Linked DNA regions of Homo sapiens. The protein of the gene in region 2 purifies or fractionates together with the protein of the main gene of each other region. This does not show direct contact. Each region holds a gene or a part of one and is shown on either strand. Other genes may lie near its edges. The genes, in order: OAT, TIMM44, FAM98B, GRPEL2 and COL3A1.

What was found.
Region 1: the proteins of TIMM44 (region 2) and OAT fractionate together in Homo sapiens (co-fractionation; one large-scale study listed by BioGRID). This does not show direct contact.
Region 3: the proteins of TIMM44 (region 2) and FAM98B fractionate together in Homo sapiens (co-fractionation; one large-scale study listed by BioGRID). This does not show direct contact.
Region 4: the proteins of TIMM44 (region 2) and GRPEL2 fractionate together in Homo sapiens (co-fractionation; one large-scale study listed by BioGRID). This does not show direct contact.
Region 5: the proteins of TIMM44 (region 2) and COL3A1 purify together in Homo sapiens (affinity purification with mass spectrometry; one large-scale study listed by BioGRID and IntAct). This does not show direct contact.

What each region holds. Positions count from the first base shown.
Region 1 is NC_000010.11:124,412,407-124,415,923, forward strand, and holds part of OAT (ornithine aminotransferase, mitochondrial isoform 1 precursor), read right to left. Parts: intron 2,667-3,517; exon of another isoform or gene 2,547-2,666; intron 2,027-2,546; exon of another isoform or gene 1,712-2,026; intron 1-1,711. UniProt on the Homo sapiens protein: Catalyzes the reversible interconversion of L-ornithine and 2-oxoglutarate to L-glutamate semialdehyde and L-glutamate.
Region 2 is NC_000019.10:7,933,667-7,937,183, reverse strand, and holds part of TIMM44 (mitochondrial import inner membrane translocase subunit TIM44), read left to right. Parts: intron 1-2,038; coding exon 2,039-2,119; intron 2,120-2,945; coding exon 2,946-3,095; intron 3,096-3,180; coding exon 3,181-3,320; intron 3,321-3,517. UniProt on the Homo sapiens protein: Essential component of the PAM complex, a complex required for the translocation of transit peptide-containing proteins from the inner membrane into the mitochondrial matrix in an ATP-dependent manner.
Region 3 is NC_000015.10:38,464,125-38,467,641, reverse strand, and holds part of FAM98B (protein FAM98B), read right to left. Parts: coding exon 3,465-3,517; intron 2,374-3,464; coding exon 2,239-2,373; intron 1-2,238. UniProt on the Homo sapiens protein: Positively stimulates PRMT1-induced protein arginine dimethylated arginine methylation.
Region 4 is NC_000005.10:149,344,173-149,348,301, reverse strand, and holds the start of GRPEL2 (grpE protein homolog 2, mitochondrial precursor), read right to left. Parts: upstream 2,804-4,129; 5' UTR 2,763-2,803; coding exon 2,686-2,762; intron 187-2,685; exon of another isoform or gene 31-186; coding exon 1-30. UniProt on the Homo sapiens protein: Essential component of the PAM complex, a complex required for the translocation of transit peptide-containing proteins from the inner membrane into the mitochondrial matrix in an ATP-dependent manner.
Region 5 is NC_000002.12:188,998,371-189,001,887, reverse strand, and holds part of COL3A1 (collagen alpha-1(III) chain preproprotein), read right to left. Parts: intron 3,215-3,517; coding exon 3,170-3,214; intron 2,604-3,169; coding exon 2,505-2,603; intron 2,419-2,504; coding exon 2,311-2,418; intron 2,047-2,310; coding exon 1,993-2,046; intron 492-1,992; coding exon 438-491; intron 353-437; coding exon 299-352; intron 1-298. UniProt on the Homo sapiens protein: Collagen type III occurs in most soft connective tissues along with type I collagen. Involved in regulation of cortical development.

The DNA.
Region 1 (3,517 bases), on a different chromosome or scaffold from region 2:
AGACTGAGGTGGGAGGATTGCTTGAGCCCGGAAGTTGAGGCTGCAGTGAGCTGAGATTGTGCCACTGTACTCCAACCTGGGAGACAAAGAAAGGCCCAGTCTCAAGAAAAAAAAAATGGCCAGGCGTGATAGCTCACATCTGTAATTCCAGCACCTTGGGAGGCCAAGATGGGAGGATCGCTTGAGCCGAGGAGTTAAAGACCAGCCTAGGCAACATAGTCTCTATAAAAGAAAAAAAAAGAGTGAGAATCTTGAGTCAGGTGTGGTGGTTTGTGCCTGTAGCCCCCAGCTGCTCAGGAGGCTGAGGCGGGAGGATCACTTGAGCCCAAGAGTTTGAGGCCAGCCTGGGCAACAGAGTGATACCCTGTCAATCAGGCAATCAATCAACCAACCAATCAATAAGAGTAAGACTCTTTCCAGAGCTAATGCACTGTGTGTTGACTGAGTACCTGCTAAACACTAAGTATTTGTTAAGCACCTACCACAGTCCGATACCATCAGGCACAATGCTATGAGACAGCTACAACTGTAGGGCAGAGACCAGAGGCAGGGAGACCAAATCAGAGAAGACTGCCAGAGACTAGGCATGGGGCAGGAGACAGAGGAACTGTCCATCCCTCTGGGCTCAAGCAGTCCGCCCACCACGGCCTCCCAAAGTTTTCGAATTAAAGGTGTGAGCCACTGTGCCCAGCCTAAAATCTTTTATTTAGCCACAAATATCTAAAACTTCTGTAGGTCAAATTTATCATAAACAAAGGTGAAAGGCAAAAAGACTAGGAAAAAAATGTTAACTTATAATAGCTTTAAAGTGTTCACAGCAAGTTGAATTAGACCAACATATACATACATACATAAATACATACACACACACACACACACACACACACACACACACACACACACATATATGAGATTCCCAAACAAAACAATCTATTCTGCTAGGATGGTTGTTTCTACAAAACTTATCCTGAAAAATTGTAGCATAAAAGATATTGTTGACCAGGTGCGGTGACTCATGCCTATAATCCCAGCACTTTGGGTGGCAGAGGCAGGCGATCACCTGAATCGGGAGTTCGAGACCAGCCTGACCAACATGGAGAAACCCCGTCTCTACTGAAAATACAAAATTAGCCAGGCGTGGTGGTGCATGCCTGTAATCCCAGCGACTCAGGAGGCTAAGGCAGGAGAATCGCTTGAACTTGGGAGGACGAGGCTGCAGTGAGCCAAGACTGCGCATTGCACTCCAGCCTGAGCAACAAGAGTGAAACTCCGTCTCAAAAAACAAACAAACAAACGAAAAAGCTATTGTTAGCAAAAGGTAACTGAGAAACTAGAGAGAGTCAAACTACAAACTACAATCCGTTACTTGTATGAGTGTTAAAGTCTAAACATCACTGAGCAGGCTGGTGTTTACCCTGCCGCCCCATCACATAAGTCAGAGCCATAGCTACTCTCCCCAGTCACCCCCAGCCCTAAAACTAGCCCCTCCACAAGGCTTCACACACCTCTTTGTACCCAATTTACCATTAAGCATCCTGATAAGCCATGAAGTAAAAACTAAGCTATGAAAGAAACTAATAATTAAAAGGAAATTAGAGCATGTGCATAGGAATCACCTCTGGAAGGAAAAAAAAAAAAAAAGCTTAAAGATAAATTCATGATTAGGAGAAAGTTGCCAAAAACTAGGCATACTTATTCCATCTATACTTACTTTCTAAAAGACTAGTTAATTCATGTTTCAACAGAAGTCTACCAATGACAAGTCAAACCATGTATAATCTCACAGCCACTCTTGATTCGAGCTGCCAAATTAGCAAAACATAATACTTGGAGTTTGGCTTACTTCCCTTTAAACTTGGCACTACCCAGTAAATCCAGTATGTTCAGGAATTTGCAATTGCTAAACAAAATCCAGTACTCCGGTTTGCCAAAGACTCACTGACTATTTTTTCTTCCCACGGTTCAGTCTAGAATACAGATTTTTAACCCAAGATCCAGGGACAGTCTGCAGAGAGTCCAAAATCTCCTGAAATAAAATGCAGAATTACATGCAGACGTATATTTTTCCAAGAAGAAGGTCCATAACTTTCATCAGACTTTATCTCAAAGGGGTGGGTACCAACAATCAAAACAAAAGTGATGTAAGAATCATCCAACTGGAGGTAGCTGCTAGCAAAAATGTCTAACTGTACTATATGTAACTTCCCCAAAATACTACTGCTAAGTCTAAAACACTCATGTATGATTTCTTTCTTGGACTCTTTATGCTTTACTCAGTATGAATAAATTGTTTGATCAACTAAAAAATTAGAACATTAATTTTTGCCTATCAAATTAGCAGTAAAACACTCAGGCAATACTTAGTGGTGCTCTAAACCGTAACAACTTTCTAGGGCCAGGCAAGGTGGCTCACGCCTATAATCCCAGCGCTTTGGGAGGCCAAGGCAGATCACTTGAGCCCAGGAGTTAAAGATCAACCTGGGCAACATAGGGAGACCCCATCTCTATAAAAAATATGAATATTAGCCAGGTGTGGCGATGCGTACCTGTAGTATCTGGTACTTAGGAGACTAAGACTAAGGTGGAAAGATCTCTTGAGCCCTGAGTTCTGGGCTGCAGTGAGCCACGATCTGTGCCACCAGCACTCCAGCCTGGGCTACAAAGCGCTAAAAAAAAAAAAAAAAAAAAAAAAAAAAAAAAAAAAAGGAATATCAGAGATTATCTAAATTCAACATTCTTATTTTATATAAAAGTTATCTGCACAGCTAATTTCCAACAGAAATGGGATGAAAAATTCATTTACCTGTTAAGTTTAGGCAGTTTTATTAAAGAATAACTGGGGACAAAATAATATCATTCAAAACATTACTAATACTCATTCTTAAGGTTTTTGTTTCTTTTCACTTACAGATGGAGTCTCAGCTATGTTGCCCAGGTTGGCCTCGAACACCTGGGCTCAAGGGATCCTTCTGCCTCAGCCTCAGGAAGAGGTGGGACTACAGGCACACACCCCTGAGTCAGCTATTCTTAAGGTTTTTAAGATGAATTCTGGATATTTAATTCAACTGGGAAAGGTCAGAAACTGGATGAGCCATGATGTATCAAAATCCTGTAAACGCATTTCTATTAAAGAACCTTCTGTGTTCAAGTTACTGTGCTTGGCACTGTATGAGAAATCTTAGAGCAGAATTAAGATGGACTTAAAAATAGCCAACATCAATAACAGCCTCTTCCAAAAAGGTTTCAAAACCGGGAGAATCAAGCGGAAAATCCCGAGTTTGGAGACCGGGATTTTAAATTCTGTCTGTGGTTCTGAAGAGTAACTCTGGGTGATTCTGTCAATCTTTCTGAGCTTCAGTCTCCCCATTTGTAAAAGGAGGTTGAAGTGTCACTGAGGATGAAATGGGTTAATGTTACTGTGCCAAATCCAGCACAAAATGGCCACTCAGTTCCCTTTTGCCCTTAAAACTAGCCAGTTTCTGAAATATCAGAATCAACAGTGCCATGATTTATTTTT
Region 2 (3,517 bases):
CCTCAGCCTCCCGGATAGCTGGGATTACAGGCGCCCGCCACCACACCCAGCTGATTTGTTGTTGTTGTTGTTGTTGTTTTTTGAAGCAGAGTCTTACTCCATTGCCCAGGCTGGAGTGCAGTGGTACGATTTTGGCTCAACACAACCTCTGCCTCCTAGGCTCAAGCGATTCTCCTGCCTCAGCCTCCCGAGTAGCTGGGATTACAGACACACACCACTACTGCCCAGCTAATTTTTGTATTTTTAGTAAAGACAGGGTTTCACCATGTTGGCCAGGCTGGCCTTGAACTCCTGACCTCAAATGATCCACCTGCCTTGGCCTTCCAAAGTGCTGAGATTACAGGTGTGAGCCAGTGCGCCCAGCCCTATATATCTTTTTATAGAGACGGGGTTTCACCATGTTGGCCAGGCTGGTCTCAAACTCCTGGCCTCAAGTGATCTGCCCGTCTCAGCTTCCCAAAGTGCTGGGATTACAGGTGTGAGCCACTGCTCCCAGCCTGTCATTATTAATTGTCACTTCTCTTCTTGAGCAGCTGCCAAGCCCTGGCTTCTGGGAATGGCTCTGCATTCCTTTATTTGTAAGGGCCCTGCGAGGCAGTTACAGTGTCCCCATTTTACCAATGAGCAGCTGAGCCTCAGAGATGCAGGCACCTGCCACGGGTCCCTTGCATTTTGGTTTGGTTTGGTTTCATTTGTGTTTTTTTGTTTGTTCGTTTTTTGTTTTTCTCCTTTGAGATGGAGTCTTGCTCTGTCAGCCAGGCTGGAGTGCAATGGTGCGATCTCGGCTCACTGCAACCTCCGCCTCCCTGGGTTCAAGCGATTCTCCTGCCTCAGCCTTCCAAATAGCTGGAATTATAGGCGCCCACCACCACGCCAGGCTAATTTTTGTATTTTTAGTGGAGACGGGGTTTCATCACTTTGGCCAGGCTGGTGTTGAACTCCTGACCTCAGGTGATCCATCCGCCTTGGCCTCCCAGAGTGCTGGGATTACAGGCATGAGCCACCGTGCCCAGCCTAGTTTGGTTTTTTGAGACAGGGTCTTGCTCTGTCACCCTGGCTGGAGTGCAGTGGTGTGATCACAGCTCACTGCAGTTTTGACCTTCCCATGTTCAGGTGATTCTCCCACCTCAGCCTCCTGAGTAGCTGTGACTAAAGGCATGGGATACCACGCCTGGCTAATTTTTTTATATTTCTAGAGACAGGGTCTCGCCATGTTGCCTGTGCTGGTCTCGAACTCTCTGGGCTCAAGCGATCCTCCCATCTCAGCTTCCCAAAGAGCTGGGACTACAGCTCACATGCCCAGCCCCTCTTTATCATTAATGCAGGGGTCATCTGAAGACATAGCAGGCTGAGTTTGGAGTGGGATGGATGGAGCGGGAGACATAAGACCAAGCTGTGGTGGCTGGAGGCTGGATGAGGGGCACAGTGATGACAGGCAAGGCCACCTCCTACCACCCGGTGAAAGGTGAAGGCTGGGCCTCCTGTTCTCAGGAGGTAGCTGCCAAGCGGGGACCCGAGTCTGCCGGCCTTCTGAGCAAGGAGCTCACCGCTGCTGAGACCCTCAATCCAAGCCATGTGGGCAGCCGGGGGCCCTGGAGGCAGCACATGCTGGCAGGTGCGGGGAGGGAGGGGCTGCGGAGAAGATGCTTCTTGGACCTTTGGCTGTAAGAGAAATGTCACTGCCGTGTCAGAACATACAGACTTAAAGACACAACGGTTGGCCAGGCACAGTGGCTCACACCTATAATCCCAGCACTTTGGGAGGCCGAGGCGGGTGGATCACTTGAGGTCAGAAGTTTGAGACCAGCCTGGCCAACGTGGTAAAACCCTGTCTCTACTGAAAATACAAAAATTAGCCAGGCATGGTGGTGGGCCCTGTAGTCCCAGCTACTCGGGAGGCTGGGGCAGGAAAATCGCTTGAATCTGGCAGGAGGAAGTTGCAGTGAGCCGAGAGCGTGCCACTGTACTCCAGCCTCGGCAACGGAGACATTGTCTCAAAAAAAAAAAAAAAAAAAAGGACACAGCGCTCTTTACCTAGAAAACCATCGAGTCAGAAACCGTGCGGACGAGCGAGGTGCTACGGAAGAAGCTTGGGGAGCTGACGGGCACCGTGAAGGAGGTAACAGTTCCACGCCCGCCTGGAGCCGCTGGGGCCATCAAAGTCCCCTGGCCGCTGGAGGCTGGAGGAAGAGTCGGCTCCTGGGTGGGGGTGGCTTGGCAGCAGTGGGTGGCATGGGGCGTGCTGCCACCCTCGGGAAGGTTTCAGGAGTTCCCGGCACATGCAGGGTGAGGTCAGACTGGCAACCTTGCATGACCGTTGACCCAGGGAGTCGGCAGCAGTAAGTGCTGCTAGCCAGGACTCGAGGAGAACATGAAAATGTTTTTCCTGCCTAAAAATAGGAGGAGAGGGGCCGCTTCCACCCCCTCCCGAGGGTAGAGGCGGGAGGCAGGATTCCTGGGGTGCTGCGGCTCTCCTCGGTTGTCTGTTCTGTCCAGCTTTGCGCAGCATGGGGCGCCCTCACCGCCGTTCTTTCCCCGGGGTCCCCTCCTTGGGAATCCTTGCTGCCAGGCAGTTCCCGGGTCTCCAGAGGACTCCTGCCCATTTTGGAAAGGGGCCAGCAGACCCAGCGTCTCACCCAGAGCCCAGGGCCAGCATCCCGGAAGCCGTGGCGGTGTGCTCATGGCTCTGGGGGTGCCGGTGTGCTCATGGCTCTGGGGGTGCCGGTGTGCTCGTGGCTCTGGGGGTGGCGGTGTGCTCGTGGCTCTGGGGGTGCCGTTGTGCTCATGGCTCTGGGGGTGCCGCGTACCACAGGAGCACAGAAGGCCTCTGCCGGCCTCGGGGAACCAGATCCGCCCTTCTCTCCGGCAGGAATTCATTCCTCCTGCCCCGCCCCCCGGCCGCCAGGGCCGGTGCCAACGCCCCCTCTCTGTGTCTGTCTCAGTAGAGCCTTCACGAAGTCAGTAAAAGTGATCTCGGCCGGAAAATCAAGGAGGGCGTGGAGGAAGCAGCCAAGACGGCCAAGCAGTCGGCCGAGTCGGTATCCAAAGGCGGGGAGAAGCTGGGCAGGACAGCGGCCTTCAGAGCCCTCTCCCAGGTGAGCCCAGTCCTGGGCTAGGGCATGCAGCCTGGGGCGGCCGAACCCAGACACCCACCCCAGCCCCGCTGTGCCTCCCTCGCAGGGGGTGGAGTCCGTGAAGAAGGAAATTGACGACAGCGTCCTGGGACAGACCGGGCCCTACCGGAGGCCCCAGCGACTCCGGAAGAGAACGGAGTTTGCGGGAGATAAGTTCAAGGAGGAGAAAGTGTTTGAGCCAAACGAGTAGGTACCAGCCCGTGGCCCTCGCTGCCCCCATTTTGGGCAGCTTTCACTGCTGTCCATTTCGGGAGCCCACCAATGGTTCCCTCCTGAGTCCGTTTCTTGAGTTTGCCTTCTGCCCAAGGTTCCCGGCTCCCTCGAATTTGAGGGTGAGAGGTGAGGGCGGGGTCCTCAGAGCCCCTAGGTTTGAGGTCTCAGCT
Region 3 (3,517 bases), on a different chromosome or scaffold from region 2:
CAAAAGAATTGCCAAGTCCAAAAGCCAAGTGAATTTTAATGTGACATTGAAAATGTGTCCTCCTAAGAGGCTGTACAAGTTATTCTCCCACCACAGTCTAATGTCTGTAGTATACGAAAAGGCTTACTCCCCCAAACTTCTATTATGATTTTTTGAGTGAAAAATGGTATCCTGTCATAAGTGATATTGTGCATCTTGTCATGCTTAGAAGCAGTTAAAAAAAAATTTTCTGTAGAATGCGTGTTCATGTCTTATGTATTTTACACATTTTCCCAGTGGATTTTTATCTTTTTCCTGTTGATTTATAAAAGCTCTTTACATAGTACAGGATTTGGCCCTTTTAATTTTATACATGTTGCAAACACTTTCAAAAAGAACATGAAGAAGCTTATTATATCAATATGATTAAAACAGTCAAACTGAAGAAAGACTAGATGCTGGTAAGACTGTGAACTAGTATAACCTTTCTGGAGCAAAATATGGCAATATACATCTAGACCGGAGACTATTTTAAATGTTCCTAATCTTTGTCTAAGTAAGCAAAAATATAAACAAGGAAATCATTTTAAAATAGAAAAAAATCCAAATACCTCCAAATTTGAAATCTATTACACATAATGTTATGTCAATAGCAGAGCCAATTTAGTTTTTCAAAAAACAAGTGATAGGGAAATAAAGAGAAAAACGACACATCAAATGAAGAGGAGGAGGAGAAGGATCTGAAACAGGATCTTAATCTTATTTAAGAGTGAGTGCGAGTGTGAGAGTGTTGTGTGTATGTACACAGAAAACAGAGACACAATATTCTCTCTAGGGAGTGAGATTATAAATGCTTTTCTTCTTTATGTTTTATGTATTTTCTAAGATTTCTATGATAAGCATGTAATTTTTGCACATATAAAATTTACCATTTTAATCATTTTTAAGTATACAGTTCTATGACGTCACCATCCATCTTCAGAACTTTTTCGTCTTCCTCACTGAAACTCTGTACCCATTAAACACTAACTCCTCATCACCGCCCTCCTGAACATGTTATTTTTATAATCAGAAAAAAACTATATATTTCTGTTAAATTTCTTTTTTATTCCTACTTGTACCAGAAACCTGTATCACTACAATTGCTAAGCTTCTTAGCAGCTAAGGAGAAAGGGAACCATGATGGATTACATAATTCTCATTGACTGATATTAAGGATATGCAAGTTCCTCTAGCCGGTGTTTCCTAGGTTCCTTTCTGTCCCAATATACCTAAGAGTTACTGTGATCTCCCAATAACAGTGGTTCATTAAATCAGTGACTCACACCAAATGGGAGGAAGATGGAGAATGGTGTATTGGGATGGAGAGAGAGGGCATATAATTTTTATCCCCACTCAACACACACAAGGTAATTTCAATGCCAATACTTTTGTCACCACTAAACACACACACACACACACACACACACACACACACACAAATTTCATCTCTAATGAAACAAACTTTATTAAAACACTAGCGCCTAGGAGGAATATGTCACGTGTAATCTTTTTATAAATGGCATGATCTGAAATAGAAATCTTCAATAATAGAAGGTATTAGAAAAATTCTTTCAAATAGTCATTGTTTGTAGAACTTTAAAAACATTATAAAATTAGCCTAAAGTAAAAAAATGATGAAAGGAACCCAACACAAACATGGACCTACTATTTATGGTAATTGTTTGAATACAGTATGACCTATATTCCAAATCCCTCCCTGATGAAACTGGCCACATTTAAAGTGTCCTAAAGGCACAAATTTTATATTTTTTAAAAAAAAACAAAACAAGCAACCCTCATATATCCCTAGTATCCAGAGCAGTTCTTGGTGTTAGAGTAAGTGATCAACAAATTATCATCCAGTGCCTAGTTTCAGAGAGTTTTTAGATTAAATAGGACTTTGGAGATCATCAATGTTAGCCATATAGTCACGAACAATAACAGATAGAATGAGATAAAGGAAAAATTACTAAAGTACTATATAAATCACAAACACAGGACATTCTATATTGGCCAAATAAATCACAAGTGTTAGAAGGCATACTGGTAAAATTTATACTATATTATATAAACATTTCTGAGATAGCTTTGTATTTTAAGTAAAATATTAAAACCCTTTTAATATACAAAATGTCTAATGCTTCATTAATAAATCTTGACTTGAAAATAATAAAAACCATGTCAAACACATGCATTTAAATGTTCAAGATAACTTACATAGAAGTTTCAAACAGTCCTCCTTCTTTTTTAAACGATCTTTAATATCTCCTGATATGAGTACAGAATATGGACATGCCATTTCTTTTAAAAAGCCACTTATCTCAAGCTGGAAGCTCTCTAGATCATCTCTTCCTTTAAAAAAGAAAAATCATAAAACATTTACTGAGCATTTACCATATAATCCAATACTATAAAATCTACTCGTTTATTTCCATTTTACATTCAATTCTAAATTTTCACATTAAATCCTTAAATGTGTGATCACGAAGCTTACGTTAACAACTGAAATAGTAAAAGCATTATTATGGCTATAATTATTAATTCACTTCAGAGCAAATGATCCATTTCTACTATATTTCTATATATTCAGAAAATAAATGCAACCATCTAATTAACCCTCACTGCTTATCTTTATTTCATAATGTAATTATGTAGGCAGTCGTGTTATATGTTTAGAATTCAAATTAGTTTACTTTGCGTCAAGTGAACTGTTAGATCTGGCTGGGTGCGGTAGCCCACACCTGCAGTTTCAACTACTTGGGAGGGTGGGGTGAGAGGGTTGCTTGAGCCCAGGAGTTCAAGTCCAGTCTGTGCAACATAACAAGACCCCATCTCTTAAGAAAAAAAGGATACTTTTCAAAGAAAAAGCTACTTTTGTGAATGCACAATTTTTAATTTTTCTTTTTATTATACTATTAATATCCGAAATTCTACCAAAGACCCACAGGACTCCAGTTACTAAGATGGTAATGAACTAAAGAAGCTTTATGAGCTAGTACAGAAGTTTTTAATAGAAGTATTCCTATGTGAATCCATATCCTGAGCTACAAGCTTCAGAACACAAATTAGGAATTATATATATATAATATTTTAAGCCTTAATTCAACATGAGCACCATTCAAAAATTAAACTTTTAAATAATCAAATTCAGACCCTACTTTTTCTAAAAAACAATACTAAGGTTTAGACAGCAGATATCAGAGCCGTCAGGAAGAGAAAAAAATAGCAGATAAATAGTAATTGCTTATAGTTTTATAGCAAATTTAAATATCAATTCTGGATTAATATAAAATTTAATCCAAAAATGTTTACTACCACATACTGAAATTCTTTGGAATATGTGATTTTTCTTTGTACAGTGGGCACATTATTGATAAAACTATAAACCGTAAGTTATCAGTTTACTATTAAACAGAAAAGTAAATACAACATAATGGCAATACCAGCAGACGTGATACTTTCTTCCAAGTTGCATAATGATTTTATTTGAGAGCCT
Region 4 (4,129 bases), on a different chromosome or scaffold from region 2:
GTGGCAGTGCTGAATGGAAGCGGCCATCCCCTAAAACAGGAAGGAGGTGGCACATAATGAAGAAATGCCATCATAAGCCAAAATTACAACCAAGTTTAGAGACCAGAGATCTTCCCAGATGGAATCTCTGGAGAAAGTGTTTTCAGTTATAGTAACAAATGAACACTTACGAAGTCCTTACCATGTACCAGACACTGTTTTACTTGAGTCATCTTTTCCTCTCACAACAATATGTGAGATAAGTCCTATCATTATCCCTATTTTACAGATGAGAAAACTGATGCTGAGAGGCTTAAGGCATAATGGCCTGCTCAAGATCACATAGTTGGTATTCCGCTGGGTCAGGACACTAAGAACCAGGCAGCAGAAATAGCCAGAACTGGGTATACAAAAGTCAGCATAAGGAAACCAAATGCTAGTACCCAGAACCAGAGGAGCATTGTCAGAAGTGGGCATTCAAAAAGTCATATAGTTCTGGTTCAACCTTCTAACTTACAGATGAGGGAAATTAAGTCCAGTAAAGGGACCTTAAGGCTTAGAATTCTAAGCCTTCCTCACCACAACCTGTAAGGCTTTTAGGAGACCTGTGCTGAGAAAGAAATTCCCACCTATAAATAAGATCAAGTCAATGAAATACTTATACAATACTATATGTTACTGCCGGTGAATAGACACAGGTGAAAATAGATCTTTGCATTCAACTAGTTATGTAATCTAGAATTTTGTACAGCTAAACTGTTTTGACATTTAGTTCAGTTTACACAGAAATAAATTTAGACTAGGGGCTAGTTTACAGCAAATCTTGGGCTGTGGCAGTCCTGACCTGGCCCAGTTCAAGGAAGTTTCCACTGCAACTCCTGGATCTTCGTAATTTGACTGTAAGTAAAATTATCTTGAAAATCAATCTGTGAGTACATGAGTTCTTTAAAACAATTTTTATGGACTGGCATATACTGTAGAGTGGTCCTCACGGAGACAGCTGAGCAAAGGCTTAAAGAGGGTAAAGGAGTCAGCTTTAGAAAAGGGAAGAGCATCCTGGGCAGAGCAAATAGCTAGTTTAAAGGTGTAAGCAAGAGGACTTTTATCTCTCCTACTTTCCAAGCTGATCTTAAATTCAATTATTATAATCCGGTGTGTGATTTTATAGACAGTTCCACATTTTGGGGTCAGAAAATATGGTCACCGTAGATCTGGGGCTAATTACACACGGTGAAACATCTTCTCCCTAAAAAAACCACATTTATCCACTTGAAAAAGCAGGTCAAAATATTCTCAGGGGCCGGGCGCGGTGGCTCACGCCTGTAATCCCAGCACTTTGGGAGGCCGAGGCGTGCGGATCACGAGGTCAGGAGATCGAGACCACGGTGAAACCCCGTCTCTACTAAAAATACAAAAAATTAGCTGGGCGTAGTGGCGGGCGCCTGTAGTCCCAGCTACTCGGGAGGCTGAGGCAGGAGAATGGCGTGAACCCGGGAGGCGGAGCTTGCAGTGAGCCGAGATTGTGCCACTGCACTCCAGCCTGGGCGACAGAGTGAGACTCCGTCTCAAAAAAAAAAAAAAAAAAAAAAAAAAAAAAAAAAAAAAAATTCTCAGGGCCAGTTCAAAGGGAAAATGGCCAAAGCTTAGACCAAGAAATAGGGTTGGGGAGTTGTGGCCAATCTCAATTCCTACTGCTTCAGAACTGGAGTAGGGAGACAGCTTACCAGAAGGAACCATTTTTCTTCTGGTCATTTCCTTACATCACCAACAAGCTGCCAAAAAGACTTGAGAACGGTAAGCAAAACCAAGTCCCGAAACCCTGAATGCAACCTCTCACTTAGGTGCTAGGGTAGGATGTTGGGTCAGGTGTGTTAAGGTAAAAAGGGTGACATATGTAGTTAAGCACATTTACCAGATTCTCCCGTAGCTTACTTTACTATTCAGAGGTCCAACCCTACCTCGTACTCAACTATTTTTATTCTCTATCCCAGGAAGAAACAGTGTAGGGGCAACAGTCTCTGAGAAAATTAATTAACATCGCTCATTAAATAAGAGCGCCGATTCCAACGCCCTGACTGGTTTCCAGCCCGGGTTCCACCACTTCCCAAATATTTAAGTTTGGAAGTTACTCAACTTTTCTAAACCTCACTTTCCTTAACTACTAAATGGGTAATAATAAAAAGAACCACCCATAATTCTGCAGTCGGCCTCGTAAGCGACCAATAAAAGCTGCCGATGGAACTTGTCTTCCGAAGGCTGATGCAATGGCCGTTTGGAGAAACAAGTTCAGCGGCCTCCTTTTACTGACAGGTACAACAGTGCCCGGATAACGGAGAAAGGACTGGCCTTAGGTCACACGGAGTGAGGGGAGAGAACCCAAATTTACCCACAGGTACCACAGGCTGGGAGAAGAGGCCGGGAGAGTGGTACATCCCTCCCTTGGGGGCTTAAGAGACTTCTCACCTTCCAGGCCATGCATGACCTCGGATCTCCTTACCTTCCTCGGCCTAAGAAAGAGGCACGGCTGATGGCCTCAGTTTCCCCGTCTGTAAAATGGGGCCGTGAGTGCACGGTCGTAGAGGCCGAGAAGCTTGGTCCCCTGGCCTACGCTCAGATAGCTCTCGCCTTCCAGCCCACAACCACCCCGGCTGGCTCGCTAGCCCCTCAGAGTCCTCACGCTCCCGACTCCCCGCCTGCAATGCTTACTTGCTCTCCCACGCGGCACTCCAGGCCAGTAGGCGCTGCACCCGCAGCCGGCCCGCCCACAGCGACCGTACGGCCATGTTTCCAATTTGGGCTGAGAGGCAGCGCACGCGCACTTGCTGCGAGTGAAGAGATGCTCCCGCTTAAAAACCAGCCTTTGCGGGCGTTTCCCTCTCAGGACTTCCGGACAGGAACGCTATGCTTCCGGTTGCCCGATGGGCCGCGCCGTTCCCCATCCGGTCGTCCGGAGCTAAGGCAACACTTCCGGCTCTCAGTGTGTTCCGCGGGTAGGCGAGGTCCTAGTAGTAACTACAGTCTCCGTGCTGGGCGCAGGGTCGGCAGCAAAGAAAGCAGATCATAGCTGTGCCCGCATGGAGCTTACTTGATATTATGAGCGATAAACAGATACAAGCGGGATGTAAAGTCAGAATATGAGCGGTGTTTGAAGGTGAGGGGCAGGTGTCGCGGAAGCCTAGAATAGAAATCTAGCCTTGTGGAAAGTTTTCCCAGAGGAAGGGGGTATTTGAGCTGAGCTGAAGAAAGGGTTCAGGCAGAGGGAAACATCTGCAGAAGCCTAATAAAGAGAGAAGAGTATTGCATGTAAGGGACTGAAATATACTGAGGCGGGAGGGCAACAGGACTGGTGGTTAGGAAGGGCTAGATCACGTGAGCGGTTTAAAACATCGCAGCCTGAACCATTGCCCATCACTCCTCCCAGTCTTTTTCTCTAATGCCCTTCTTATCGACTGAATTGTTTTTTTAAATAGTGTGTATTTTCTCATTTCCTCTCACTAAAATATAAGCTCTTTTAAGGCAGAGATATTGTCTATTCATTCCCATTGAGCAGTGCCCTAATGTAGGTGTTCAAAATTATTTTTTTTGAGATGGAGTCTCACTCTGTCACCCAGGCTGGAGTGCAGTGGCACGATCTCGGCTCACTGCAACCTCTGCCTCCCAGGTTCAAGTGATTCTCCTGCCTCAGCCTCCTCAGTAGCTGGGATTACAGGCGCCCACTACACCCGGCTAATTTTTGTATTTTTAGTAGAGACAGGGTTTCACCATGTTGGTTAGGCTGGGCTTGAACTCCTGACCTCAGGTGATCTGCCTTCCTCAGCCTTCCAAAGTGCTGGGATTACAGGCATGAGCCACCGCCCCCGGCTTCAAAAAACTTTTTTGCTGAATGCAATTTAGTCTGATTCTGATTGCAATGGAATGTGAAAATAAATAAAACCTAAAAGCTGTTGGAACCTCCCAAATACTTGAAGCTTTGAGAGAGATGTGGCTGTGGTCTGAGTCCATGTAGCATGTTTTGTAGTTCTGCTTCTTAGAATTATAGCTTAATTCTCTTCCTCATTGTTCTTGTTCTGTAATGACTAGGAAAGAGCAGAGACCAGATTTCTTCCCTCTCAATTACTGATGTTTGTAATAGACAGCCTCCTTTATTGTC
Region 5 (3,517 bases), on a different chromosome or scaffold from region 2:
AGATTCTATAGGCTTAAGAAATACCTAATTACAAACATGTACTACTTGTGCAATTCATGTATTTTTTCCAAAGTTATTTAGGAAAGAAATCCTGATTTAAAATGGTCTCCTGTGAATGTTAGATTTAAGAAATTTAACATTCCCTTGCATGCTATATGGTTCCTTATATGGTTTTTGAAGATAATATCTCCAAATTGAGGCTCAGGGAACTGAGGGCAAAACTGCCAAAAAGGGAAGCATAAGTAGCTACTGTCTGTATGGGGTTAAAAAGTATGTTGAGAATGTCTTTAACACTTACAGGGCTACCACGAGGTCCAGCTATACCTGGAAGTCCGGGGGCACCACCTTCACCCTGGAAAAAGAGAAGCCATGTCACTGTCTTGCATCCAAAAGAGAGAGACATTTTCTTTTTATATCCAGGTAGTATTAAGGGTTACCTTATCTCCAGGCTGGCCAGCTGGGCCAGGAGGACCAATAGGACCAGTAGGACCCTAGAGGAAATAAAAATATTTTTTAATTTTGAAGATACAAATATCGTTTTTTGCATTAATCAAACAGAAAGTATATAGACATAGATACCTAATAAACTAGATAACATACTTTTTAAAAATTTTTATGGCTTGAATGCTATGCTTTTCTCTCAATGTGTAAATACTGCAGAGCTCAGTAAACACAAGCCTCTTTGGGGATAACTCTGGGAGAAAATAGGATTCAGCAATAGTTTATTGATTCATTTATCTTTATCTCCATTGTAGAAGATAAATAGGATGTCATGTAAGATCTTACAGTAATGTCTTTTTAAATTAAAGTACATTTCTTTATTCAATTGCTTGATAATTTAAATGTTTTCTCAAAGTCTCATTGTACATATTAAATTTTTCAACTTGAAATTTTCAAATAGTAGTTTTACTTATATTACAAAACTGAAGTATTGAGCACTCTTTTTACCTGAATGACGGCTTATCTACTTAGTCTGTCAAAAGCGAAGCATTTATGAATTTCTTTAAGGCAACTATTATATAAATTTATTAAAAGACTTAATTATAATCATATTTAGGAGATGTTTTTTGTTTTGTTTTTGACTTTTAGTTTGAATTATAGATTCATAGGATGCTGCAAAGGAATATACAGGGAAATTCTGTGCACTTTTCTCCCAGCGTCCCCTAATGTTAACATCTTACACAACTATAATATAATATCAAAACTAGGAAATTGACATTGATACCATCCATAGAGCATGTTCAGATTTCACCAGTGATACACACACTCATTTATGTGTGTGTATATGTAGCTCTATAGAATTTTATCCCATGTGTAGATGTGCCTGACTACCACCTCAATCAAGATACTCAAATGTGCAATCACCATAAGACTCCCTTGTGTCATGTCTCCATAGCCACATCCATCTCTCTCTTTCTCATTCTTAACTGCTAGCAACCACTAATCTGTTCTACATCTCTACAAGGAAGTTATTTTGCAAATATTGTAGGAATGGAATCATGCAGTATGTATCCCTTGGTGACTGAATTTTCTTCACTGAGTATGTTGTCCTTGAGGTTTGTATAATTTGCTGTGTGTACAGCATCAATTGTTCATTCCTTTTTGTTGCTAAATACTATACAATTTTTAAATATTAAGTCTATTAATGAGGAGTACTTACTATATTGAATTTTGATGACTTTTAGTTTCTTAATGAGCAGCATTGATTATCCTAAATTTCAGTGATTATCTCAGATTTTAGTGACTCACAAATGCTAGTTTGTGACCTTTATCGTACTCTTGAGGCTTTTTCATTCTTTAGTCACTGTAGATCTATCAAGTAGCCATAGATATAGACCACAAATTTCATTATAAATCAAGTCATTCGGGTCTTTAGGTGGTAAAATATCTAATTTCTCTTGAGTAGTTTTTGGAAAAAATTAAAGTTGAAGTGCAGGACTGTCCCATATGACATATAGATAAGGCCTGCTTCTCCTCACTGGGAATACTCACCCTTGGGCCATCTTTCCCTGGGACACCATCAGCACCTGGACCGCCTGGTTCACCCTGTCAAATAAAAGCCAATGTCATCAGATTCAAAGTATCTTCAGTGAAAATCAGCCAAGAAGAGGAGTAACTCTCAGGATTTGTAGGGATATATATTGGGTGTTCTAATTCATTGTTGCTTTAGGAATCCATCTTAAATTTCACTTACTATAAAATGATAACATTAATTTTGAAAATACAGTCGATTACTTTCCAGGAGTGTTGCTTTTTTTAAAACCTACAATGACTGATTTATTGAACAATTAAGAGAAAACAAGTCAACACCTTGTCACCCTTTGGACCAGGACTTCCAAGACCTCCTCTTTCTCCAGGCATTCCTTGCAGACCAGGAGTACCAGCAGCACCAGGTGGCCCAGGAGGACCAGCAGCACCCTGAAAATAAGTGAGAAATAATAAATGATCAGAAGGAAATCAAATGCATTTTTTAAACCTAGGTGAATGGAATGCTGTGGAGTTACCTTTCCTCCTTCGGGACCAGGGGGACCAGCTCCACCTCTAAGTCCTGGGGCCCCTGCCAATCCAGGAGGTCCACGTTCACCAGGGGCACCAGCATCACCCTGTGACAAAAATATGTAAATAACCATATTAGACAACCCAAAGCTAAAAACAAAGCACCTTAACTTGCATCATTTTGAATCAGGCCACTAGGTTATTATATTGTGAACAATCTAGAAATTTGTATACTTAAAAATAGTTGAACAGCTGGGTGGGAACTAGAAGCTTAAAAGAGTGTCTAAAATAAAACTTGGATACTTAGTCTGGTTAAGTGTGAGCTGTCATTGAAATACTTATTATTTTATTCACAAGAGCAACATTTTAAAGTTCTTTTTACCAAAACAGTTTTCCTACATAGAATCAACATATTGGCAATATTTTTCCGTTTGAAATTTTAAGCCCGTATTTGATTCTGTAGTGATTATGAATGTCAGAGAATTGGACCTTCCAGATTAAAGCAAATTTAATGTATTGAAAGTGTCTTGAGTTTCTCTAAGTGTACTTACCAAACATTTGCAATGATGCTCTTTTAAAGAAAGAGTATTTTGGCTTGATATACTAAAAATATACTACTAATCAATTGCTCTATAACCTGCTGAAGAAGGTAGAGAATAAATTGAAATACTACCTTGCCTCCTGGAGCTCCAGGTGCACCGGCATCACCCTTTGGACCCTGGGAGATTGGCATTATATGATTAGGCCCATATCAGAGTGCATTTTATGTAAATATAAGCAAATATGTAAATATAAGCAAATATGTAAATATAAGCAAAATACACATTTGTCATGTTGGCATACTGTATAATTTTTCAAATCTTGAAACTATGAACTCTCTATTTTATGGTAAAATTCAAACTCTATATAATAGTTATCTTTTAAATAATTTGTCTTTGTTTTGATAATATTTCAAAACTAAATGTTAAATCTCAAATATCATGGCATAAGAAAATTAAGAAGTTAATAGTTGACAAACAAA